7 linked regions of the Homo sapiens genome follow. The protein of the gene in region 3 purifies or fractionates together with the protein of the main gene of each other region. This does not show direct contact. Each region holds a gene or a part of one and is shown on either strand. Other genes may lie near its edges. The genes, in order: APOOL, MIGA1, TMEM126A, DIAPH3, SASS6, ATAD3A and LRBA.

Region 1 (3,500 bases), on a different chromosome or scaffold from region 3:
TTTCAGGAACAGGTGGTTTTAGGTTAAATGGGTGAGTTCTTTAGTGGTGATTTCTGAGATTTTGGTGCACCTGTCACCTGAGCAGTTTACACTGTCTCCAGTGTGCAGTATTTTGTCCCTTACCCCCTCCCAGTATTCCCAAGTCCCCAAAGTGCATTATCTTAATTTTATGCCTTTGCATCCTGATAGCTTAGCCCCCACTTATTAGTGAAAACATGATAGTTGGTTTTCAATACCTGAGTTACTTCACTTGGAATAATGTTCTCCAACTTCATCTGGGTTGCTGCAAATGCCATTATTTTCTTCCTTTTTATGTCTGAGTACTATTCCATGTTGTATACATACCACATTTTCTTGATCCACTCATTGGTTGATGGGCATTTGGGTTGGTTACATATTTTCACAATTGTAAATTGTGCTGCTGTAAACATGCATGTGCAAGTGACTTTTTTATATAATGACTTTTTTTCTTTGGGTAAATACCCAGTAGTGGGGTTGCTGGATCAAATAGTAGTTCTACTTTTAGTTCTTTAATGAATCTCCATACTGTTTTCCATAGTGGTTGTACTAGCTTACATTCTCACCAGCAGTGTAAAAGTGTTCCCTTTTCACCACATCCACACCAACATCTATTATTTTTTTATTTTTAATTATGGCCATTCTTGCAGGAGTGAGATGGTATCGTATTGTGGTTTTAATTTCCATTTCCCAGATAATTAGTGATGTTAAGCATTTTTTCATATGTTTGTTGGACATTTGCATATTTTGAGAATTGTCTATTCATGACCTTCACCTACTTTTTGATGCAAATTATTTGTTCTTTTCTTGATTTGTTTGAGTTCCTTGTAGATACTGGATATTAGTCCTTTGTCAGATGCATAGTTTATGAGTATTTTCTCCCACTCTGTTGGTTGTCTGTTTTCTCTGCTATTTTGTTTGCTGTGTAGAAACTTTTTAGTTTAATTAAGTCCCATCTATTTATTTTTGTTTTTGTTGAATTTGCTTTTGGGTTCTTGGTCATGAACTACTCTTTGCCTAAGCCAATGTCTAGAAGAGTTTTTCTGATGTTATCTTCTGGAATTTTTATGGTTTCAGGTCTTAGATTTAAGTCTTTGATCCATGTTGAGTTGATTTTTGTATAAGGTGAGAGATAAGGATCCAGTTTAATTCTTCTACATGTGGCTTGCCAGTTATTCCAACATGATTTGTTGAACAGGGTGTGTGTGCTTTTCCCACTCTGTTTTTATTTGCTTTGCCTAAGATCAATTGGCTGTAAGTATTTGGCTTTATTTCTTGGTTCTCTACTGTGTTCCATTGGTCTACGTGCCTACTTTTATACCAGTACCATGTTTTGGTAACTGTAGCCTAGTTTGTAGTATAGTTTGAAGTTGGGTAATACGATGCCTTCAGATTTGTTCTTTTTGCTTAGTATTACTTCAGCTATGTGGGCTCTTTTTTGGTTCCATATGAATTTAAGGATTGTTTTCTTCTAGTTCTGTGGAGAATGATGATGATATTTTGATGTGAATTGTATTGAATCCGTAGATCACTTTTGGCAGTATGGTCATTTTCACAATATTGATTGTACCCATCCATGAGCATGGGATATGATTCCATTTGTTTGTGTCATCTATAATTTCTTTCAGTAGTGTTTTATAGTTTTCTTGTAGAGATCTTCCACCTCCTGAAGTTTTTTTGTTTGTTTATTTTTTTGTTTCTGTTTTGCAGCTGTCGTAAAAGGGATTGAATTATTGATTTGATTCTCAGCTTGATCGTTGTTGGTGTATAGCAGTCCTACTGATTTGTGTACATTGATTTTGTAACCTGAGACTTTACTGAATCATTTGTTAGATCTAGGAGCTTTTTGGATGAGTTCTTAGACTTTTCTAGGTATACTATCATATCATTGGTGAACAGCAGTGGTTTGACTTCCTCTTTTCTGATTTGGGTGCCCTTTATTTCTTTCTCTTGTCTGATTTCTTTGGCTAGGACTTCCAGTATCATGTTGAATAGAAGTGGTGACAGTGGTTATCCTTGTGTTGTTTCAGGTCTCATTGGAATGCTTTCAGTTTTTCCCCATTTAGTATGGTATTGGCTGTGGGTTTGTCATAAATGGCTTTTATTACCTTGAGATCTGTCCCTTCTATGCCAGTTTTGCAGAAGGTTTTTATCATGAAGGGAGCCAGGAGTTTTTCAAATGCTTTTTCTGCTTCTGTTGAGGTGATCTTATGATCTTATGATTTTTAGTTTTAATTCCGTTTATGTGATGTATCACGTTTATTGACCTGTGTATGTTAAACCATCCCTGCCTCCCTGGTATGAAACCCACTTGCTCATCTTTTTGATATGCTGTTTGGATTCAGTTAGCTAGTATTTTGTTGAGGATTTTTGCATCTGTGTTCATCAGGGATATTGGTCTGTAGTTTTCTTTTTTTTGTATGTCCTTTCCTGGTTTTGGTATTTGGGTAATACTGGCTTCATAGAATGATCTAGGGAGGACTCCCTCTTTCTTTATTTTTTGTAATAGTTTCAGTAGGATTGGTACCAATTCTTCTTTGAGTGTCTGATACAGCTTAGCTGTGAATCCATCTGGTCCTGGAATCTGTTTTTGTTGGCAATTTTTAAATTACTGTTTCGATTTCGCTATTGGTCTGTTCAGTTTCTGTTTCTTCCTTATTTAATCTAGGAGGATTGTGTATTTCTGGGAATGTATCCATCTATGCTAGGTTTTCTAGTTTGTGTGCACAAAGGTGTTCTTAGTAGCCTTCAATGATCTTTTGCATTTCTATGGTATCAGTTGTAATATCTCCCTTTTCATTTCTACGTGAGCTGATTTGGATATTCTCTCTTCTTTAATCTCTCTAATGGTCAATCAGTTTTCTTAATCGTTTCAAATAAACAGATCCTTGTTTTATTTATCTCTTGTATTTTTTTGTTTCAATTTTATTTGGTCCTGCTCTGATTTTGTTATTTCTTTTCTTCTAGCTTTAGGTTTAGTTTGACCTTGTTTCTCCAGTTCCTAGAGGTGTGATATTTGATTGTCAATATTTGGGCTCTTTCACACTTCTTGATGTAGGCATTTAATACCATGAACTTTCCTCTTAGCACTACTTTTGCTGTATCCCAGAGGTTTTGATAAGTTGTGTTACTGTTATTCAGGTCAAAGACTTTTTAAATTTCCATCTTAATTTCATTGTTGGCCCAAAGATCATTCATTAGTAGATTATTTAATTTACATGTATTTGTATAGTTTTGAGGGTTCCCTTTGGAGTTATTTCAGTTTTATTCTACAGTGGTCTGAAAAGATGCTTAATATGATTTTGATTTTCTTAAATTTATTCAGAAGTGTTTTGTGTCCTATCATGTGGTCTGTCTTGGAGAATGTTCCATGTCCTGATGAAAAGAATGTATATTCTGCAGTTTTGGGGTAATAAGTTCTATAAATATCTAAGTCCATTTGTTCTAGGATGTAGTTTAAATCCATTGTTTCTTTGTTGACT
Region 2 (3,500 bases), on a different chromosome or scaffold from region 3:
AGCCACAGCCCAAGCTCTATGGTGGCCCCTTTCAACCATGGCTAGAGTGGCTGGGATGCAGGGCACCAAGTCCCTAGGCTGCACACAGCACGGGGACACTGGGCCTGGCCCCTGAAACCACTTTTTCCTCCTAGGCCTCCTGGCTGGTGATGGGAGGGGCTGCCGTGAAGACCTCTGACATGCCCTGGAGACATTTTCCCCATTATCTTGGGGATTAACATTTGGCTTCTCTTTACTTATGCAAATTTCTGCAGCCTGCTTGAACTTCTCAGAAAATGGAATTTTCTTTTCTATGGCATTGTCAGGTTGCAAATTTTCCAAACTTTTGTGCTCTGCATCCCTTATAAAACTGAATGCCTTTAACAGCACCCAAGTCACCTCTTGAATGCTTTGCTGCTTAGAGGTTTCTTCTGCTAGATACCCTAAATCATCTCTCTCAAGTTCAATGTTTCACAGATTTCTAGGTCAGGGGCAAAATGCCACCAGTCTCTTTGCTAAAATATAGTAAGAGTCACCTTTGTGCCAGTTCCCAATGAGTTCCTCATCTCCATCTGAGACCACCTCAGCCTCACTTTATTATTCATATCACTATCAGCATTTTGAGCAAAGCCATTCAACAAGACTCTAGGAAGTTCCAAACTTTCCCACATTTTCCTCTCTTCTTCTGAGCCCTCCAAACTATTTGAACCTCTGCCTGTTATCCCGTTCCAAAGTCACATCCACATTTTTGGGTATCTTTTCAGCAGCACCCCACTCTACTGGTACCAATTTACTGTATTAGTCCATTTTCATGCTGCTGATAAAGACATACCTGAGACTGGGCAATTTACAAAAGAAAGCTTTATTGGACTTACAGTTCCATGTAGCTGGGGAGGCCTCACAATCATGGCGGAAGGTGAAAGGCACGTCTCACATGGCAGCCGCAAGAGAGAGTGAGAGCCAAATGAAATGGGTTTCCCCTTATCAAACCATCAGATCTCGTGAGACTTATGCGCTGTCATGAGAACAGCAAGGGAAGGACTTGTCCCCATGATTCAATTACCTGCCACTGGGTCCCTCTCACAACACATGGGAATTCAAGATGAGATTTGGGTGGGGACACAGCCAAACCATATCAAAGGTAGTATATCCTTCTGGTTTTGATTTGTATTTCCCTGATGATGTTGAGCATCTTCTCATGTGCTTATTGACCATTTATATGTATCCTTTGAAGAAATGTATATTTTAGTCCTTTGCCCTTTTTTTTTTTTTTTGTAAGACAGAATCTCACTCTGTTGCATGGGCTGGAATGCAGTGGTGCAATCTCACTGCTCACTGCAGCCTCGGCCTCCTGGGTTCAAGCAATTCTCCCTGCCTTAGCCTCCTGAGTAGCTGAGATTACAGGCGCCTGCCACCATACCTGGCTAATTTTTGTATTTTTAATAGAGTCAGGGTTTTGCCATGCTGGCCAGGCTCGTCTGGAACTCCTGACCTCAGGTGATCTGCCCGCCTCCGCCTCCCAAAGTGTTGGGATTACAGGTGTGAGCCACTTGTGCCTGGCCCCTTTGCCCATTTTTGAAATTGTTTTGTTCTCGTGGAGTTTTAGTTCTCTGTATAGTCTGGATATTAATTCCTTGTTAGTTATATGATTTCCATATATTTCTCCAATTCTGTGAATTACTTTTCTTTTCTTTTTTTTTTTTTTTGAGATGGAGTCTCACTCTGTCACCCAAGCTGGAGTGTAGTGGTGCAGTCTTGGCTCACTGCAACCTCTGCCTCCTGGGTTCAAGCAATTCTCCTGCCTCAGCCTCCCGAGTAGCTGGTATTACAGGTGCCTGCCACCACACCTGGCTAATTTTTGTATTTTTTCTTTTTTTTAGACAGAGTCTCGCTTCTTCACCCAGGTTAGAGTGCAATGGCGCAATCTCGGCTCACTGCAACCTCCGCTCACTGCAACCTCCGCCTCCTGGGTTCAAGCAATTCTTCTGCCTCAGCTTCCCAAGTAGCTGGGATTATAGGCATGTGCCAGCATGCCTGGCTAATTTTTGTATTTTTAATAGAGATGGGGTTTCACCATGTTGGCCAGGCTGGTCTTGAACTCCTGACGTCAAGTGATCCGCCTGCCTTGGCCTCCCAAAGTGCTGGGATTATAGGCATGAGCCAGTGTACCTGGCCTAATTTTTGTATTTTTAGTAGAGACGGGGTTTCACTATGTTGGCTAGGCTGGTCTCGAACTCCTGACCTTAAGCGATCCACCCACCTTGGCCTCCAAAGTGCTGGGATTACAGGCATGAACCACGGTGCCCAACCCTGTGAATTACTTTTTTATTCTGTTGATGGTGTCTTTTGATGCACAAAATTTTAAAATTTTCATCAAGTCTTGTTTGTATCTTTTTTTTGTTGCCTGTGTCTTCATTGTCATATTTAAGAAGTCATTGCCAAATCCGATGTTGTGAAGCTTCTTAGGGTTTTAGGACTTATATTTAGGTCTTTGATCCATTTTGAGTTAATTTTTGTATGTATTATTAGGTAAGGGTCCAGTTTTCCCTATACCATTTGTTGAAAAAACTCTCCATTTCCGACTGAATGGTCTTGCACCCCTGTGGAAAATCATTTGATGATATATGTGAGGTTTTATTTCTGTGCCCTTGATGCCAGTACCTTACTGTTTTGATTACTGTCGCTTTATAGTGAGTTTTGAAATTAGGAAATGTGAGTCCTCCAGCTTTGTTCTTCTTTTTCAAGTTTATTTTGGCTATTCTAAGTCCCTTGAGATTCCGTATGACATTTAGGATGGGTTTTTCTATTTCTGCCAAAAAATCATTGGGATTTTGATAGAGACTGCATTGAATCTGTAGATTGCTTTGGGTAGTATTGACATCTTAACAATGTTAAGTCTTCTAATCTATGAACATGGGATGTGTTTCTGTTTATTCATGTTTTCTTTAATTTCTTTCAGCAACGTGTATATATATATATTTTTAAATTGTAGAAGTCTTTCACATCTTTGGTTAATTCCTAAGTATTGTATTCTTTTGGATAATAATCTAAATGGAATTGTGGGGGGCGGTTGCTTTTTTTTTTTTTTTTTTTTCTTTGAGACGAGGTCTTGCTTTGTTGCCCGGGCTGCAAATCCCGGCAGTAAGTCATGGCTCACTGCAGCTGAATCCTCCCAGGCTCAGGTGATCCTTCCACCTTAGCCTCCCAAGTAGCTTGTACTACAGGAGTGTACCAACACACCCAGCTAATTTTTTTTATTTTTTGTAGAGACAGGGTTTTACCATCTTGCCCAGGCTGGTCTCAAACTCCTGGATTCAAGCGATCCTCCCGTATTGGCCTCCCAAAGTGCTAGGATAATGGGTGTGAGCCACCGTGTTTGGCTTTCTCTCTCTTTCTCTTTTTTTAACCAGATTTTAAAATAACAAGATGGTTCTGTAGTATCCTTCACAGCCAATCAATGAAAGTTTTTTAAAAATCGTTTTGATCTTATGGATTTAATTGTATTTGATGTTTTAAACCAT
Region 3 (4,244 bases):
TAGCCAGGCGTGGTGGCAGGAGCCTGTAGTCCCAGCTACTTGGGAGGCTGAGGCAGGAGAATGCTGTGAACCCAGGAGGCGGGGCTTGCAGTGAGCCGAAATCACACCACTACACTCCAGCCTGGGTGACAGAACGAGACTCAGTCTCAAAAACAAAAAAAAAAATCAGCTGATCAGCTGGGCGTGGTGGCACACGCCTGTAATCCCAGCTACTCTGGAGGCTGAAGCAGGAGAATCGCTTGAACCTGGAAGGCAGAAGTTGCAATGAGCTGAGATCAGGCCATTGCACTCCAGCCTGGCCGACGAGAGCAAAACTCTGTCTAAAAAATAAAAAATAAAAATAAAAAAAAGACTAGGAATTTTCCTTCTTGTACACCTTCGTGAAAATAAGTCTTTCTATTTGTGCAAGTTTAGAAACTGCAATTACAGACTTCTTGGCACTATGGAGCCTAATGGTCAAGCAACCCTGCAATGGAGAGACAGTATAAAAATTATCTGGACAATGCAACACTTTATCACTTGTTCAGAAATTTGAGAGGATGAGAATAATTAAGATTTCTGATAATGTGTTATGATCATGTATTTATTGCTACAGTTAGTTATATATTTTTTGGCACAATGTTTACCTGCTAATCTTAATGGAGTTAAGATAAAATTCAATTGTAGGCATTTTTCCCTTCTATTGGGTTAATTAGTCCAAGCGAACTGAGCAAAGGTTGCAGGGAGCCCCAGCATGGCTGAGGAAGACCTGGTGAGGCATCCACTGGCTGCTGGGAGGAGAGCATTAGAGGTACCTTCTGAACAGCACTGTCCAATAGAAATATAATGCAAGCCACATATATAATTCTAAATTTTCTAGTATTTATACTTAAAAAGCAAGAAGAAATAAGATGACTTTCACCCAACACTGCTTCCAAATAAGCAGTACTCTGGAGAACACGAGAAATCCTCAGAAAAATAAGCTGCAGCTCTGAGGTGCTGATTATGGTAGGGCAATCAATACAGATCAAAACATGGCACAGGGAGCTTAAGTTCCTAGGGAGAGTAGAAAATCGATAGAGCCAAGAAATAGCTCACCTTTGACTTATTTTTAACCTGAGTAGCTATCATATGCCAAGAGCTGTGCAGTTTTCATTTACCCCATGCCAAGAACGTAAGTAGGCTCTACTGACCAGGAAGTTAAGTAATATGCCCGAGGTACGTTTTCAATGGAAGAGGCTGACTGAGGGTCACCCAACTTATATCTCGAAATTTCACAATTTCTACAAGTTCTGTCCTGGGAGGCAAGAGTAGGTGAAACGAGCACACTCTACGCCAGGCAAACAAACCTCAACGCTTAGCCTCCCGGCACCTCCTAGGGCCGGAAGCTTCTCAGCCCAAAGCCGCTGCTGGCTGCAACCTCCGTCCCGCAGTCCAATTAGCAGCCGCGACCCGGCGCCCGCCCACGCCGCGTCACGAGTCAGCCAAAGATGGCTGCGCCCAGGTAATTTGAGCAAAGGCCACAGTGAACTCCGGCGTGGCTGAGGAAGGAGGAGGCACCCACAGGCTGCTGGGAGGAGAGCATAAGGTACTGGTATTCCGGGGGAGGGGGTGAAGTAAATGTCCCGGTGTCAGGAGAAGCACGACGCGGTGACACGCTAGCTACCAGCAGCGCTGCGCGTAAATGAGAGCAAGTAGAAGTGTAGTTAGCTCTTCCTGCTGTCTTTTCACTTTGCACTCTAGAAGGAAAGACCTTATATTTAAATTAACTCAGTAGAAAGGAGAAATGCCTGAGATTGAATTTAATCCCAGGTTTACTGTCAATTTACAAGGTGACCACGGCCAAATTTGATTTTCAGAGGTCCCACTTTACTTCTCTTTCAGATAGGCCCCACACTGCCTATCTCTCAGAGCTCTTCCAAGAATGACATGAGATAGGTAACACAAAAATCTTTCGAAATATTTGTAGTTTTTACAGGCGGCGTTGTCTTTGATAGATATTTGTTATTAATATCGGAGACAAAATGCCCACAGGGGCTGCCCAGTCAGCACTTATACTGAATTGAGTGACTTAATTGCCCTCAGTACAATATATACATACTAAATTTGATTATATATTTCACCACCCCATACACAAAATCATTCAGAGCTCCTGTACAGCAGAGATTGTGTCTTATCATCTTATCGTAGCCAAGGCCCTCAAAAATTTGACTACCAGAAACCTAGACATAAATTTCTAAGGCTGCTTTGTACTTATTAGGTTAGCTTTAAGTCTAGAGATATGGAATGTCAAGGTAATCAACATTTCCAAATGACCTCTTATCGATATAAAACAGGTAGCAATAAATATTTAAACGAGTGCCTGTAATGTTGTAGGAAATGAGAAAATCTGGTTTCATAAAAGCATGTTTTCCTTTGTTGTTATCCCTGAACTGTTTTTTTTTTTTTTTTTGTAGACCGAGTCTCGCTCTCACCCAGGCTGGAGTGCAGTGGCGAGATCTCGGCACACTGCAACCTCCACCTCCCAGGTTCAAGCGATTCTCCTGCCTCAGCCTCCCGAGTAGCTGGGATTACAGGCAGCTGCCGCCGTGCCTGGCTAATTTTTGTATTTTTAAAAGACAGGGAGTTTCACCATGTTGGCCAGGCTGGTCTCGAACTCCTGACCTCAGGTGATCCGTCTGCCTTGGCCTCCCAAGGTGCTGGGATTACAGGCGTGAGCCACTGCATCCAGCCTTTGTTTTTCTTAACTGTTACCCTGAAACCTGAGCCAAATCTTCATCATTCACCATTCCCTTCACATTTTCACCCTAACTAGTGCAGACATCAACAAACTACTGGCATGTAGGCCATATGCAGCCTATAGCTTGCCTTGGTACAGCCACCCAGCTAAGAATGATTTTTATGTTTTTATAGTTTTTTTAAAAACAAATATTCAACAAAGGCTGTATGTTACCTGCAAAGCCTACCACATTTACATCTGGCCCTTTAAAGTTTGCTGAGCCCTGATCTCAGGTATACCTAGAAATGAAATTGCTAGCTATGTGTGTCTTCTATCTGCTAAATAATACCAAATTCTTTCCCAAAGTGACTGTACAGTTTGGGTAAAGCTACCCCACAGAATGTACACAGAATGTAGTTTTAGCTACCCCGCATTCTTGCCAATAATTGGAATTGTCAGATTTTGATTTTAGCTAACCTATGGGTACCTATTGGTATCTCACTGTGGGTTGTTCCCCCAGTTATAATGAAGGTGAGCATATTTTCATGTTTATTGGCCATTTAACTTTCCTTTTTGTGAAGTGCCTGTTCAAATATTTTGTCAGTTTTTCCGTAGGGCTGCTTACCTTTTTCATGTTGATATGTAGTTCCATGTATGTTCTGGGTACTAACTACTCTTTTGTCAGTTCTATTGCATTTTCTCCCCCACTAGCTTATCTTTATGGTATATGTTGATAACCATAGGTTCTTAACTTCAATACTGTTAGTTTTATAAGTCTTTTATGTTTAGTGCTATTTGTGAATTGTTTAGGAAATACTTTCAAGGATTATGAAGATATTCTGTATTTCCTAAAAGCTTTATGTGTTGCTTTTCATGTTCTGGTTTCTGTTTCACTTAGATTTTTTTTTAATAATATGTATGCAATGATTTTTTTCAGATTAGCTCTACAGTATTATTTTTAGTCTTCAGAAGGTTTTTAAAATTCTTTGTATAAATTCTTGAGAAATGATATCTTCATGTTTTTTAAGGCTCAAAATGGAAAATCATAAATCCAATAATAAGGAAAACATAACAATTGTTGATATATCCAGAAAAATTAACCAGCTTCCAGAAGCAGAAAGGTAAGATCCCTTCTTAATTTAAAAACACCTTTTATCAGGTGGATTTTCACCATTGATTCATTATCTCAAGTTTATCTGGTTTGAGTATAAACAACATGGAATGTGAGAAGGAAATTGCCCTTTTCTTGCCTGGATGAGAGCGTTTAACCATTTTGCTCAACATCACATAGCTAATTGTGGAAGGTGAGGCTGGAACTCATGTCTTTGGACATACCTAATTGTATAATGTTTTGAGTTTTTCCATTAGGCTTGGAGTATAGTAAAATGTAAACATTTACAGACCCATTTAAATAACAAAACTTTAACTTTTAAAATGTCTTTTTTTTCCCAGTTCATTCTGTCAGTATGCTTACCAGTCTAAGAGTACCATAGAACACACATAGCAAGATAGAGAATGTCAGAGAAATAGGATCATGGCTAAAGAT
Region 4 (3,500 bases), on a different chromosome or scaffold from region 3:
CACTTGTGAGTTGGGTAAAAGAGTTTGTAGCTTAGATATCTCTTCCCATAGATAAGTATAAATAGTAGAAATTAGTCTATTGTAATTGTATGATACTTTGGCTGTGCTACGAATCAATTGACTTTGGGATGCTTGTGAATTAACCAACTTGGTCTCATTTGAAAATATCTTAAGCCGTGAGCATTGAGATGGTAGGGATAGCTACTGGGGCATAGAAGAGAGATGGAGGAGGCTGAGAGGACAGGGCAAGTATCTGGGTGGAGACTTTGTGAAGGCAGATAAAATTCCGTAGGAATTAAACTTGGAACCTGCCCTAGGCCACACTCAATACCTGGACCTGAGTCCTATATCCTTTGTAGAACAGAACAGTTGTCCTACAGATTGTGGAAAGCCTTTCAGTAATACCTGTTTCTCATTACTCTTGGCAACACACAGGTAGTGGTGGCAGAGCAGGACATGTGGCTTCTAGAAGTGTCCATCTCTAGGATGTAGGTCAGTCCATTCAAAGGGAGCCTGTAAATTGGTGGTCCAAGTTGATGAAGGAGTTCTTTTTAATTAGGAGAGTCCTCTAAAAGTTCTCACAGACTTCAGTGTAAATCGTCTAATCGTTTCCATCAAATAGATTGTTAATTATTGATTGATTATGTCATTGTAGTACCTTCAGTGTTGGTTTTGAGATTTTTCTTTTCTTTTTTTTCTTTTTTTGAGACGGAGTCTTGCTCTGTCGCCCAGGCTGGAGTGCAGAGGCGTGATCTCGGCTCACTGCAAGCTCCGCCTCTCGGGTTCATGCCATTCTCCTGCCTCAGCCTCCCGAGTAGTTGGGACTACAGGTGCCCACCGCAACGCCCGGCTAATTTTTTGTATTTTTAGTGGAGACGGGGTTAACCGTGTTAACCAGGATGGTCTCGAACTCCTGACCTCGTGATCCGCCCACCTCGGCCTCCCAAAGTGCTGGGATTACAGGCGTGAGCCACCGCGCCTGGCCGGTTTTGAGATTTTTTCACCTTGTCCTTTAATTTCTGTATATTTACCATGTTTGGGCATTGATGGTAATACTAGTTAACCTTTCTGAGTGAGCCAAGCACTGTTCTAGGTGCGTTGTAATTATCAACTCCTTTAATTCTTAGAACAACCTTGTGAGGTAGGTAGTATTATTAATCTTGTTTGCCATAGGAGGAAACCAAGGTACACAGAGATTAAGCTGCCTAAAATCACACAGCTGCCAGTTCATGAGGCTGAGATTTGAATCTAGGCAAGCTGGCTTCAGAGTATACATTCTTTCTTTCTTTCTTTTTTTTTTTTTGTGAGACAAAGTCTCATTCTGTTGCCCAGACAGGAGTGCAGTGGCACAATCTTGGCTCACTGCAACCTCTACCTCCTGGGCTCAAGCAGTTCTCCTGCCTCAGCCTTCTAGTAACTGGGATTACAGGCACGTGTCACTACGCCCGGCTAATTTTGTATTTTTAGTAGAGATGAGGCTTCACCATGTTGGCCAGGCAGGTCTTGAACTCCTGACCTCAAGTGATCCACCCGCTTCGGCCTCCCAAAGTGCTGGGATTACAGGCGTGAGCCATCGCACCTGGCCTAGAATACACATTCTTAATCACTGTCCTGAATTCTCTCCCATAGCTGTTGGGAACTTTAATCTTTACTGCTTCTTTTCTCATCCAGGAACCATTAGCAATAATTAGTGATGCCTTTAATTAATATATAATATGAATATAGAATTGATTTTCTGATTATAGGCAGGCTGCGAGGTGAGAAGATATACAAGGTTGGAGAATTTTTGTTGATTGTACACGTAGTAGGAATTTGAGTACAGATGAAATCCCAGTAAGCTTAATGAGATTAGTGCATGTTTGCCAATTACTTTGGGTTATTTGGAAGCAGGTGTAGTAGGCCGAACAATGATCTTCTGAAAGGTAGACACTCCTTAATCCCTGGAACCTGTGAATGTTACCTTATATGGCAAAAAATGACTTTACAGGTTATTTGGTTTTTTTTTTTTTTTTTTTTTTTTTTAAGAGGGGCCAGGCAGGAGCAACAATTAAACCCAATGTATGACTGTGCTGTGGTGTAACTTCTGACAGCAGGATGTCTGAAAGAGATACTGCTCTTTGCTCTTCCAGCCCCTGAGAGACAGGGTATCTCATAGCCTCCAACCTCCTGCTGGGAGGATGAGGAACCATCCTTCAGTGCTTGCCTGCCTGAGTTTGGGCTGCCACTCTAGAACTCCCTGCTCAGCTTCCCAGCCAGTCCAGATTGTGGAATGTGGCTGCTTCTCCCCTTTTAGCTGGGGCAACCACAGGTGGTTCAAGCAACCTCTGCCTGGGCCTGTTGAACTCCACCAGGAGGAGGCAGCCCCAAAGTTCCACACATCTGGACATCTGGGGCCTTGGACAGTGATATGGTCAGCACATGGAGATTGAATCTATGTCTGAGGTGGATACACATTAACTAAGCTCACAAGCTTAATGAATAAGCTGTAACCCAACTCATTAATGTATACCAGCCAGTGTGTTGCAGCCAAATCCTTCCAGGCATGCAGGCCCCAGAACAAAGAGGATTAACAAAGAGCAGATGAAAACAATTCTAGCCAGTAAGCTAAAGGAGAAATCTGCTGGGGAATTCTGAGAAAGATGTCTTTGCTCTGTAAAAAGGAACTAACAAAAACTTTGCATCCAGTATTGGCTGAGATCTCATTGGACCACAGACCTCTCACATGACAAAATTATAAAAAGCAACTATTAAAACACTGGAGAGTGATCAAAAGACATGGCTATTGGAGACAATACTTGGAAGAAGGGACTAGCACTGGATAAGTTTGTCATTTTTTGTAGCTTTTTGCATAAGGGAAGCCCCTAATCAGGGTCATGTGGGGTGGTTAAAACTAGAATATAAGCCCACAGTTGTACTGGCATAAAAAACCAGAGGGCAGAGTTCTGGTGACCATATAGCTGATAAATGAGGAGAAAATCCTGGAGAGGAGAAGGAGCCACAAATGGGTAGCCCCAAATTCTGTGTGTAGAGTCCTCAAATTTCTGAACCCTACATGTATGGGACAGACTCCAAGCAGCACAGGTAGGGCTAACATATCTGAACTAAGATTTCAGGTCCCATCCAGCGGATGGGACAGTATGTGCAGTTTGAGAGTTCAGCCAAGTTAACTGCCTGCTAAAACAAACACAAAAAGCAATACTTCTCAGAAGAATAGAAGGAATTCAGAGTCCCTACACCATACATTCACAATGTTCAGGATACAGTGCAAAGGTATTTGACATTAGGAAAAAACAGGAAAATGTGACCCATACAAACAAGAAAAAGGAATCAATGGAGACCAGTCTCAAGATAACTCAGTTGTAAGCATTAATAGACAAGGATTTTAAAGCAGTTGTATAACCATATTTAAGAATATAAATGAAATATGCTCACAATGAATGAAATGATAGGAAACCTCTGTAGAGAAACAGAAACTATAAAAAGACCACAGTGGAAATTCT
Region 5 (3,500 bases), on a different chromosome or scaffold from region 3:
TGTCCTAAAAATAACAATTGCTACCATTTATTGAGTTTTACTGTGTGCCAGCCAAAATGCTAGGCAATTTACGTAAGGATTTTTATGAAGGTTAAATGAAATAATTTATTAAGTATTTGTTATTTCTGTTTTACAAATGAGGGAACTGAGATTTAATTTAGGGAGTTTCAGTAATTACCAAGATCACACAGTAGAAGAGCCAGGATTTGAATTTTGTTTGATACTAAAGTTTGTGCTCCTAAAACCACTATAGTCACAATACTGTATAATTATTTTTGGAAACTTTGGTTAAGAACTAAAACTATCTAGGAATATTGTATCCTGGGCTTTCATATACCAGCAGCATTTGGGTTGATATTAGCTGATTGGGAAGAGATCTATTGTAGATTTTTTAAAAATCTATTTTTAATGAACAATTATTGTTTATTTTGCTTGAAAGAGTGAACAGAGAGATCTGGAAATGTTAACATTTATTGACATAGAAAGATATTTGTAATACGTGAAGAAGGTAGATTATAAACTGCAGAGTATCAACCTTTAAAAAACAATCTGTACATGTAAGCAACAAAGAAAAATGTTAAGTCTACATTGTGGCGGCTCTCACCCGTGGTTACCCTTGGAATCAGTTGTGGAGACATCAGAAAATTATTGTTAAAAGTTTTAAAGTTACTGTAATTTATTCATAAATTAGAATTATTTTCCCTTGATATGATTGAATCAGATAGTAGAATATTTTACAATTATATTCCAGATATATGCTACTATACCATTAGAAAGACATTTATGCTTTTAAAAAAAAATCTGTACTAAAACTTTAAAATTATTAAAGACTTTTTTTTAATATGTTAGACATCTTAATTATAAATAACCAGATGAGGCAGCTTCCTTTTTTCATAATGCTTAATTTCTTTCTTTTCCCATTCTAGGAGCTACAGCGGACTAAGCAAGAAGTCCTCTCTTTGCGAAGAGAGAATTCTACACTAGATGTTGAATGCCACGAGAAAGAAAAGCACGTTAATCAGCTACAAACAAAAGTGGCAGTTTTAGAACAGGAAATCAAGGATAAGGACCAGCTTGTTTTAAGAACAAAAGAGGCATTTGATACAATCCAGGAACAAAAGGTCTACTTTTAAATTTTTCTCAGAAATTGATAATCATATTTATAAGTAAACACAAATGCCCTAATTATTCATGTTTTTAAAAAATATATCAGGTGGTTTTAGAAGAAAATGGTGAGAAAAATCAAGTACAACTAGGAAAGCTTGAAGCTACAATAAAATCATTATCTGCAGAACTTCTGAAGGTTTGTTTTAAAAATTTTATAGACTAGTATTTCATTAAATTACATAGAAATATACATATGAAGCTCTTTTATAGGCAAATGAAATTATCAAGAAGTTACAAGGGGATCTGAAAACTTTAATGGGTAAGTTGAAATTGAAGAATACAGTTACTATTCAGCAAGAAAAACTCTTGGCTGAGAAGGAGGAAAAATTACAAAAGGAACAAAAGGAATTACAAGATGTTGGACAGTCTCTTCGAATTAAAGAGCAAGAGGTAGTTAATATTTTAAATTTTTATGTTGTAACTAAATTTTTTCCTCGTTTTAAAAATTTATGCTTTGTTACATTAACAAATGGCTTTGGTCTTGTTTTTTTTTTTAACAAAAGAACATGACTAGATTGAGTAGATGGTAATAACCTGTTTCAGTTTGGAAAGTTAGTTATCATGATTCAGATACCTTGATTGCTCATGTATGTCTATGTTTGTATACACATGTAAATATTTTATTACATAATTGAGCTAATTCCTTTATTCTCATTTAATAATAGTAGTAGTAACCATTTATGTAATTATTTAGTTAATAATAATACATTCTTCAGTTTTTATTTAACCTTTATTTTGCTTGACTTATTGTGATGATTGATATATTTCAGGTATGCAAATTACAAGAACAATTAGAAGCTACAGTTAAAAAACTTGAAGAAAGCAAACAACTTCTAAAAAATAATGAAAAGTGTAAGTATGTTACGTGTTAATGTAAATGAGGTTTGTAGTTTTATTCTTTTATTTTTTTGAGACACGGTCTCACTCTGTCACCGAGGCTGGAGTGCAGTGGCATGATCTCAGCTCACTGCAGCCTCCACCACTTTGGTTCAAGTTATCCTCCCGCCTCAGCCCCCCAAGTAGCTGGGACTAAGGTGTGCACCACCACACTCAGCTAATTTTGTGGGTTTTTTTTGTAGAGACGAGATTTTATCATGTTGCCCAGGCTGGTCTTGAACTCCTGAGCTCAAGTGATCCACCCGCCTTGGCCTCCCAGATTGCTGCGTTTAGGTTTACAGGTGTTAGCCATCGTGCTCGGCTGTAGTTTTATTCTTAACCTGAAAATTTTATTCGAATTCATAAAAGTAGACATTGGCCAATATATAAGTAATTTCTGCTTTAAATATACTGTCTTAATGCCTTTTCTATAATAAATTTATATCATCTGCCCAGTAAAAGAGTTATCATCTTTATAAAGAAAACCATATCCCATAGGTCAGTAACCCACAATTAAAACTGTTGAAAATGTTGACTGTAATTTATTGTTTAAATTCTTCATTATTCCTTTTTTTAATAGCTGTGTTTACCTAATAATAACAATATGAATTGTTTGAAAACAAAACATAAAAATAAGATTTTAACTAACATTTTCTCAGTTTATACTACTGGGTATCATACATAAGATTGTGAATTTTAAGTAAACTGTAAGATATTCTAGAAGTGAAATCTTTCAAAGAGTTGCTTGACTAGCAGAAATATGTGCTTCGGAAAGTAATACAATAAGGAGTCCTATGTGGCAGCTTCTAAAATAAGAAACTTTAATGACAAAAATTTAGGTGAACCTATATTGCTCTCCTGTGATGTCAGGTAGTTGTAAAAACTTATAATTTAAAAATCTTAATATAATTTTTAAATGTTTAAGATGATTAGAAAAATAAACAGTCAATATTCTTTACCTTGCTTCTTGTTCTTTTATTTAAGTAATCACGTGGTTAAATAAAGAACTAAATGAAAATCAGCTAGTGAGAAAGCAAGATGTATTGGGACCTTCTACTACTCCGCCTGCACATTCCAGCAGCAACACAATCAGAAGTGGAATTTCTCCTAACCTGAATGTGGTAAGATTTAAAACAAGATGTGAGTGATCTTAGTGAATTTCCTGAAACAAAAGTATTTCCAGATTGTTAGGAAGTTTCCATGATTTAAGGTGCTGATACCAATACAAAGTGGAGTCCTACAATTGCACTGAAATAGAGTTTAAGTTGCCCCTGGAAGTGGAACAAAGGCACACTTGCTCTGAACAGAGGCTGAGTTTCAAGAGCACATTTCTTTTTTTTGTTTTGTTTTGTTTTTTTTTTGAGATGGAGTCTCGCTCTGTCGCTCAGGCTGGAGTGCAGTGGCGCGATCTCGGCTCACTGCAAGCTCCGCCTCCCGGGTTCACACCATTCTCCTGC
Region 6 (3,012 bases), on a different chromosome or scaffold from region 3:
CTCCACCTCGTGTTGTGGGAGCTGCTGCCTTGGCCGGCCCACTTGGGAACTCCTTCCCCAGGCGCCTGAAGCTGGCCCAGTTTGACTACGGGAGGAAGTGCTCGGAGGTCGCTCGGCTGACGGAGGGCATGTCGGGCCGGGAGATCGCTCAGCTGGCCGTGTCCTGGCAGGTGAGTCAGGCTCCGGCACGTCCACCCAGACGGGACCCCAGCTGCTGTGGAGATGCTCAGTTGCGCCAGGCCTGTCCCAGCACCGGTGTCACGCGGGAGCTTCTGTTGAGGGGTTTTCAGTGCACAGAGGTGACACAGGGCCCCCTGCCCCAGTCAGGCCACTCCACGAGGCATCGCGCACCTGCTCGTGCCCTCAGGAGGGTGGAGCCATGTCGGTGGCTGACAGTCACCCGGGGCTCTCTGGAGGCCAGTCTGGCATCGCCGTAGCCCGAGCTTTGCCAGGTGGGGCTGGAGGCTTCTGACTCTCACCTTGGCCAATAGGCACCTCCCTGTGTAAATGGTCGTTAGGACAGGCCCCATGTGAGTTGGGGGTTCGGGGTGGAGGGACATTGTGTTTTCTGGACCAAGTCTGTGGGCTTGGTCCTGCTTGACACATGGGTGGGAGTGGCCTCTGGTTGTCCCACAGCCAGTTGTTCTTCGGGGACACCCCTCCTGCAGCTCCGTGGCTGCTCCAGGGCTGAGGAGCCAGGACTCACAGGAGTGTGGGCGTGGCCATCCAGAAAGCTTTGGTCTTTGGGGGTTGCTGGAAAAGCAAAACCAGGTTGGTGGGGCAGAAGGCACCCTGGCCACGCACAGGCATCACCACCTCTGGGGTCCGCAGAGTCTGTGTAACAACCTGGTTCCTCAATCTAGCAGTGCTTTTGAATGAACGTGTGACAGCTTAATGAAGCAGCCGAGTACCTTGATTTGAATGTTGGAGCCGGGGTTCACAGGGGGCTGTATTAGTCAGTACAGGCTGGGTTATGCCACTGTGACAAAGAGCCCCAGATCTCAAACCCCGTCCTTGTGGGTCAGCTGAGGTCTCTGTTCCAGGCCATCCCCACTTGGAACCAGGTCTGTTTCCACAACTAAGAAAGCAGAGGCCGGGTATGGTGGTGGCTGACGCTTGTATTCCCAGCATTTGGGGAGGCCAAGTTAGATTATTTGAAGCCAGGGGTTTAGGACCAGCCTGGAAAGCAAGGCAAGACCCCATCTCTACAAAAAATGAAAAAATTAGCTGGACCTGGTGGCACATGCCTGTAATGCCAGCTGCTTGGGAGGCTGAGGTGGGAGGATCACTTGAGTCCAGGAGGTGGAGGCTGCAGTGAGCTGTGATTGCCACTGCACTCCAGCCTGGATTACAGAGCAAGACCCTGTCTTAAAAACTAAGAATAATGGCCGGGCGCGGTGGCTCACGCCTGTAATCCCAGCACTTTGGGAGGCCGAGGCGGGCGGATCACGAGGTCAGGAGATCGAGACCATCCCGGCTAAAACGGTGAAACCCCGTCTCTACTAAAAATACAAAAAATTAGCCGGGCGTAGTGGCGGGCGCCTGTAGTCCCAGCTACTTGGGAGGCTGAGGCAGGAGAATGGCATGAACCCGGGAGGCGGAGCTTGCAGTGAGCCGAGATCCCGCCACTGCACTCCAGCCTGGGCGACAGAGCGAGACTCCGTCTCAAAAAAAAAAAAAAAAAAAAAAAAAAACTAAGAATAATTTGGAACGAGTGCGGTGGCTCACTCCTGTAATCCCAGCACGTTGGGAGGCTGAAGTGAGAATATCATACACCTGAGGTCAGGAGTTTGAGAGCAGCCTGGCCAACAAGGCCAATCTCACCTCCACTAAAAATACAAAAATTACCCCGGCACATTTGTGGTGTATGCCTGTAGTCCCAGCTACTCAGGAGGCTGAGCCAGGAGAATCTCTTGAATCCAGGAGGCGGAGGATGCGGTGAGCTGAGATGGTGCCACTGCCCTCCAGCCTGAGCAATAGCGTGAGACTCCATCTTAAAAAAATAGTAATAGGCCAGGTGCAGTGGCTCACACCTGTAATCCTAGCACTTTGGGAGGCCAAGGCGGGCAGATCACGAGGTCAAGAGATGGAGACCATCTGGCCAAATGGTGAAACCCCATCTCTACTAAAAATACAAAAATTAGCTGGGTGTGGTGGCGCATGCCTGTAATCCCAGCTACTTGGGAGAATGAGGCAGGAGAATCACTTGAACCCGGGAGGCGGAGGTTGCAAAGAGCCGAGATTGCACCACTGCACTCCAGCCTGGCAACACAGTGAGACTCCATCCCAAAAAACGAAAACGAAAACTAAAAATAATAATAACTGGGGCTGGACGGGCGCGGTGGCTCATGCCTGTAATCCCAGCACTTTGGGAGGCCGAGATGGGCGGATCATGAAGTCAGGAAATCAAGACCATCCTGGCTAACACGGTGGAACCCCATCTCTAATAAAAAATACAAAAAAAAAATTAGCCAGATGTGGTGGCGGGTGCCTGTAGTCCCAGCTACTTGGGAGGCTGAGGCAGGAGAATGGCATGAACCCGGGAGGCAGAGCTTGCAGTGAGCCGAGATCGCACCACTGCACTCCAGCCTGGGCGACAGAGCAAGACTCTGTCTCAAAAATAAAAAAATAAAAAATAAAATAATAATTTGGGCTGGGCACGGTGGCTCACACCTGTAACCACAGCACTTTGGGAGGCTGAGGCAGTGGATCTCCTTGAGTTCAGGTGATCTGCCCCCTTTGTCCTCCCAAAGTGCTGGGATTACAGGTGTGAGCCACCATGCACGGCATCTTGAATTCTTTTCTCATAAAAGGGTTTTGAATTTGGTCGAATGCTTTTCCTGCATCAGATGAGAGGGTCATGTAGTTTCCTTCCTCCACTCGGCTAATATTGATTGATTTTTGTATGTTGAACATTTTTTATGTGGAACATTGATTGATTTTTGTACGTTGAACTATCCTTGCATTCCAGGAATAAATCCTGCTTGGTCAGGGTGTATAATTTTTTTATTA
Region 7 (3,500 bases), on a different chromosome or scaffold from region 3:
CCTTGGCTCAAGTGATCCTCTCCCTTCAGCCTCTCCAGTAGCTGGGACTGCAGGCATGTACCTTTGTTCCTGGCTAAAAGTATTCTTAGCTTTAACATTTTGAAACCAAATAGCATTTATTACTTTAAAAAATTTAAAATAATAATAAGTTTTCATTACAGGAAATCTTGAACCCAGCAGAAATGCATACACACAGAAAACAAAAATTATCCATTATCCAAACACCTATGTATAACTTATTAACATTTTAGTGCGAGACCTTTTAGTCTTCTCTTCTATACATGAATCTATACATAACATATAATTATTTGCTAACAAAATGTGATCGTATTTTTACTATTTTAGAGTATTATTTAATGATATGCTTCTTACATGAATTTTAATGCCTGCATATTATATGACATTATGGAGAAGTAAAGAGCATAAGATTCAGCTTTGATATAACATTTGAATGTTATCAGACCACTTAAAATTCTAGGAAGGAGTGACCGTGTAAATGATTCAAGTTTTCTTTTTATATTCTGGCATTCTCCAAAATTGTATTTAGAAAAATTGATGGAAGAGAGATTTAAAAAATCTATTGATTTATATTATAATCATACTTTATCTGTTCCTTATCATTGACCAATGATGAGCCTGGTTCAATACTGTAACCCTTATTTTGTAGGATAAATTCCTGTAAGTGGAATTTCCAGAGGAAGGAGTCTGTACATGTTTTAAAAAGTTTTTAGTAGATATTGCTAAATTGCCCTCTAAAAATTTGTACCAGTTTATACGCTAGATTTGCATGAAAGCATCTGTTTAGACTGTTTTTAAGAAATTAAAATTGATCAAAATGACTGTTTTAAAAATGAAAAGATTAGAAGTTATTTGCTGCAATATTCTTTTGTCAGTGTTCTTCCTATCTTTATAAATGGGGATTGTACTACCAACCTTTAGAATTGCTCTTAATTATGTCAGTAATGCTTGATTTTACCATTATATCTGTTACCTATACCATTGTTATACATCAGAGTCTTTATAAAAGATCTCATTAATGTGGTGGCAATCATTTTGACTTATGCTCATTGATAATACATATGGGAAGATCCACCTGTTTTTAAAGATATATCTTATTTATCAAAGGTTGGTAACTTAATCAGAAGTTAACATCATATTTAGCTGGTATTTTCATATGAAAACAGACACTGAAAAAGATGCCTTTGCTTAAAAACAAAGTCAGTTGCTAAACATTGCCTAACAGTTTAAAATGTCTAAATTTTACAGGTTATACGGTTTTAATGTATAGATTAAAAAGATAATATTAACATCTGGATGTATTGTGTTTATCTTTTATCTACTAATTAGTAAATTTGAGTGCCAATTAAGTTGAAAATAATGGCAAAAGAAATGTTATAGTCATTAGCTCACAAGTATCTTTAACTAGTAGTTTATAGAAGTGCTTTCCAAACATTACAAACAGCTATAGATTAGCTATCAAATGATTGTGAAGATTAATGACTAGTCTTTTAGCTGGGTAATTTAGAACAATATCTGGCAATTAATTGGAAATTATCAGTTTTAAAGTCACAAATATCTTAAGGAAAACAGCATCCAAAAAGATAATACTGATAGTTGTTCAATTGCAATTTAGCTTTTAGACCATTGGATGAATTAAATTAAGGGCAAATTTAAAAACCAAATGACTTTAGAATTTTAAAAGCATTTCAGATTCTGAAGGTAAATGCTTTTCTATCTGTGGTTTTATACTCTGACTATTAATCAAGTATGAAGCGAGAATAAATACCTTTTCAGGATTTGAGATCTCAAAACATTTATATACATCCTTTCTTAAGAAGGCACTGCAGGATATTGCACAAAAGGAGAGAATAATACAAAGAGGAAGAAATGAAATATAAGAAACAAGAGACAACATAGAAGAGAGATGAAGGGGATCTCCAGGACTGTAGAAAGGGAGATCCCAATAGCAGCTATGTAGTAGGCAGATGACAGTCCATCTGGACTGGAGCAGTTTCACTCAGGAGAGGTGGACCTGTATTCTTATTAGGAGTACTTAGCTTGCTTGCCTTCATCATGTGCTGATTAAATTCCTGTTTTCCTGTCTAATGTGAATCACCTGAAGATTCTCACTTCACTCCACAAAGACATGCTGTGCTTCGACCTACTTCTTAGGGTAGAGGTTCACCATGGTGAGCTTAGAATTGAAAAATATAAAGTATTTCATGCCAATACACTCTACCTGGCACACACTGCCTCTGATAGGTTCTCCAGTTCTCTTGACCTCTATATTTCCTGTATTTCCTAATGACTTGCCTATAAGACTTCCCAGAAATGGCTTTACATATTCTCTCAAATAAGCTGAAGCCCTGCTGCAACTCACAGATTCTGTGTATCTTGTCTTTTCTTGGGAGCTCAGGTGTGGCAGTATTGCTCTTTAAAATACAATTGGCTAGGTTTGTGTTAGACTTAGTTTTTTAAACTAAACATAATGGGTATGTTTAGTATATAGATAGTAAAACTATCTTTTAAAATTATCTCCCAAAGCTCTGACCTCCAGGTAAAACTATTTATAAACAGTGAACGATAGAAATACCAGGATAGTGATTTTTTTCTGATTGTAGTGGAGAAATAGGGAGTACAGTTTGGGCAGGGCACATAGGGGAATTGTGAGGTACTGGTAACGTTTTACTTCTTGACATGGGTGGTAGGCATGTGAGATTAAAAAAAATTGTTTCTTAACCTGTACATATAAATTACATATACTCATGTTTATTGATCCATTGTATAATACAAATTCTAAAAACCTTTAATATAAATAAAATCAAAGCAAATGATTATTGAAAACTAAAGTCATTCTATAACACAGGCTATTGTAGAAATAAATGGCCTATTTTCAAAATGACTGTGAGGTTGGTAATATGTAACTTGCTTTCTTTTGACAATGATAATTGTTTGTTGGTGGAGAAATGCTCTCTCTAAAGTCAGTTTTCCAAAAAGTAGGCTAACCAGTCTTATTTTTTTGGAGACAGAGTCTCACTCTGTCACCCAGGGTGGAGTGCAGTGGTGCTATTTTGGCTCACTGCAACCTCTGCCTCCTGGGTTGGGTTCAAGCAATTTTCCTGCCTCAGCTTCCTGAGTAGCTGGGATTACAGGTGTGTGCCACCATGCCCAGCTAATGTTTGTGTTTTTAGTAGAGACAATGTTTCACCATGTTGGCCAGGCTGATCTCAAACTCCTGACCTCAGGTGATCTGCCCACCTTGGACTCCTAAAGTGCTGGGATTACAGGCGTGAGCCACCGTGCCCAGCCACTGATCTTTTAAAAAGGGAAATCAGATTGTCTTCCCTACACTCTTAATTCTCAAATGGCTCTCTCAGAATAAAATACAGTCTTTAATACAGTCTATAATGTTCTACAATCATAATCTAGCTCGTGGCCACATCTTTGACCTCATTTTCTTTAGTTCTCAGTTTATTGCTTTATTGTTATTCATCATACAT

The links.
Region 1: the proteins of TMEM126A (region 3) and APOOL purify together in Homo sapiens (co-immunoprecipitation; one large-scale study listed by IntAct). This does not show direct contact.
Region 2: the proteins of TMEM126A (region 3) and MIGA1 purify together in Homo sapiens (affinity purification with mass spectrometry; one large-scale study listed by BioGRID and IntAct). This does not show direct contact.
Region 4: the proteins of TMEM126A (region 3) and DIAPH3 purify together in Homo sapiens (affinity purification with mass spectrometry; one large-scale study listed by BioGRID and IntAct). This does not show direct contact.
Region 5: the proteins of TMEM126A (region 3) and SASS6 purify together in Homo sapiens (affinity purification with mass spectrometry; one large-scale study listed by BioGRID and IntAct). This does not show direct contact.
Region 6: the proteins of TMEM126A (region 3) and ATAD3A purify together in Homo sapiens (tandem affinity purification; one large-scale study listed by IntAct). This does not show direct contact.
Region 7: the proteins of TMEM126A (region 3) and LRBA purify together in Homo sapiens (affinity purification with mass spectrometry; one large-scale study listed by BioGRID and IntAct). This does not show direct contact.

The regions. Positions count from the first base shown.
Region 1 is NC_000023.11:85,010,377-85,013,876, forward strand, and holds part of APOOL (MICOS complex subunit MIC27 precursor), read left to right. Parts: intron 1-3,500. UniProt on the Homo sapiens protein: Component of the MICOS complex, a large protein complex of the mitochondrial inner membrane that plays crucial roles in the maintenance of crista junctions, inner membrane architecture, and formation of contact sites to the outer membrane.
Region 2 is NC_000001.11:77,786,149-77,789,648, forward strand, and holds part of MIGA1 (mitoguardin 1), read left to right. Parts: intron 1-3,500. UniProt on the Homo sapiens protein: Regulator of mitochondrial fusion: acts by forming homo- and heterodimers at the mitochondrial outer membrane and facilitating the formation of PLD6/MitoPLD dimers. May act by regulating phospholipid metabolism via PLD6/MitoPLD.
Region 3 is NC_000011.10:85,646,523-85,650,766, forward strand, and holds the start of TMEM126A (transmembrane protein 126A), read left to right. Parts: upstream 1-1,444; 5' UTR 1,445-1,567; intron 1,568-3,726; 5' UTR 3,727-3,733; coding exon 3,734-3,819; intron 3,820-4,244. UniProt on the Homo sapiens protein: Protein required for the cotranslational protein quality control in the inner membrane of the mitochondria.
Region 4 is NC_000013.11:60,157,429-60,160,928, reverse strand, and holds part of DIAPH3 (protein diaphanous homolog 3), read left to right. Parts: intron 1-3,500. UniProt on the Homo sapiens protein: Actin nucleation and elongation factor required for the assembly of F-actin structures, such as actin cables and stress fibers. Required for cytokinesis, stress fiber formation and transcriptional activation of the serum response factor.
Region 5 is NC_000001.11:100,105,431-100,108,930, reverse strand, and holds part of SASS6 (spindle assembly abnormal protein 6 homolog), read left to right. Parts: intron 1-926; coding exon 927-1,121; intron 1,122-1,213; coding exon 1,214-1,303; intron 1,304-1,377; coding exon 1,378-1,557; intron 1,558-1,937; coding exon 1,938-2,019; intron 2,020-3,027; coding exon 3,028-3,164; intron 3,165-3,500.
Region 6 is NC_000001.11:1,529,162-1,532,173, forward strand, and holds part of ATAD3A (ATPase family AAA domain-containing protein 3A), read left to right. Parts: intron 1-61; coding exon 62-170; intron 171-3,012. UniProt on the Homo sapiens protein: Essential for mitochondrial network organization, mitochondrial metabolism and cell growth at organism and cellular level. May play an important role in mitochondrial protein synthesis. May also participate in mitochondrial DNA replication.
Region 7 is NC_000004.12:150,854,785-150,858,284, reverse strand, and holds part of LRBA (lipopolysaccharide-responsive and beige-like anchor protein), read left to right. Parts: intron 1-3,500. UniProt on the Homo sapiens protein: Involved in coupling signal transduction and vesicle trafficking to enable polarized secretion and/or membrane deposition of immune effector molecules. Involved in phagophore growth during mitophagy by regulating ATG9A trafficking to mitochondria.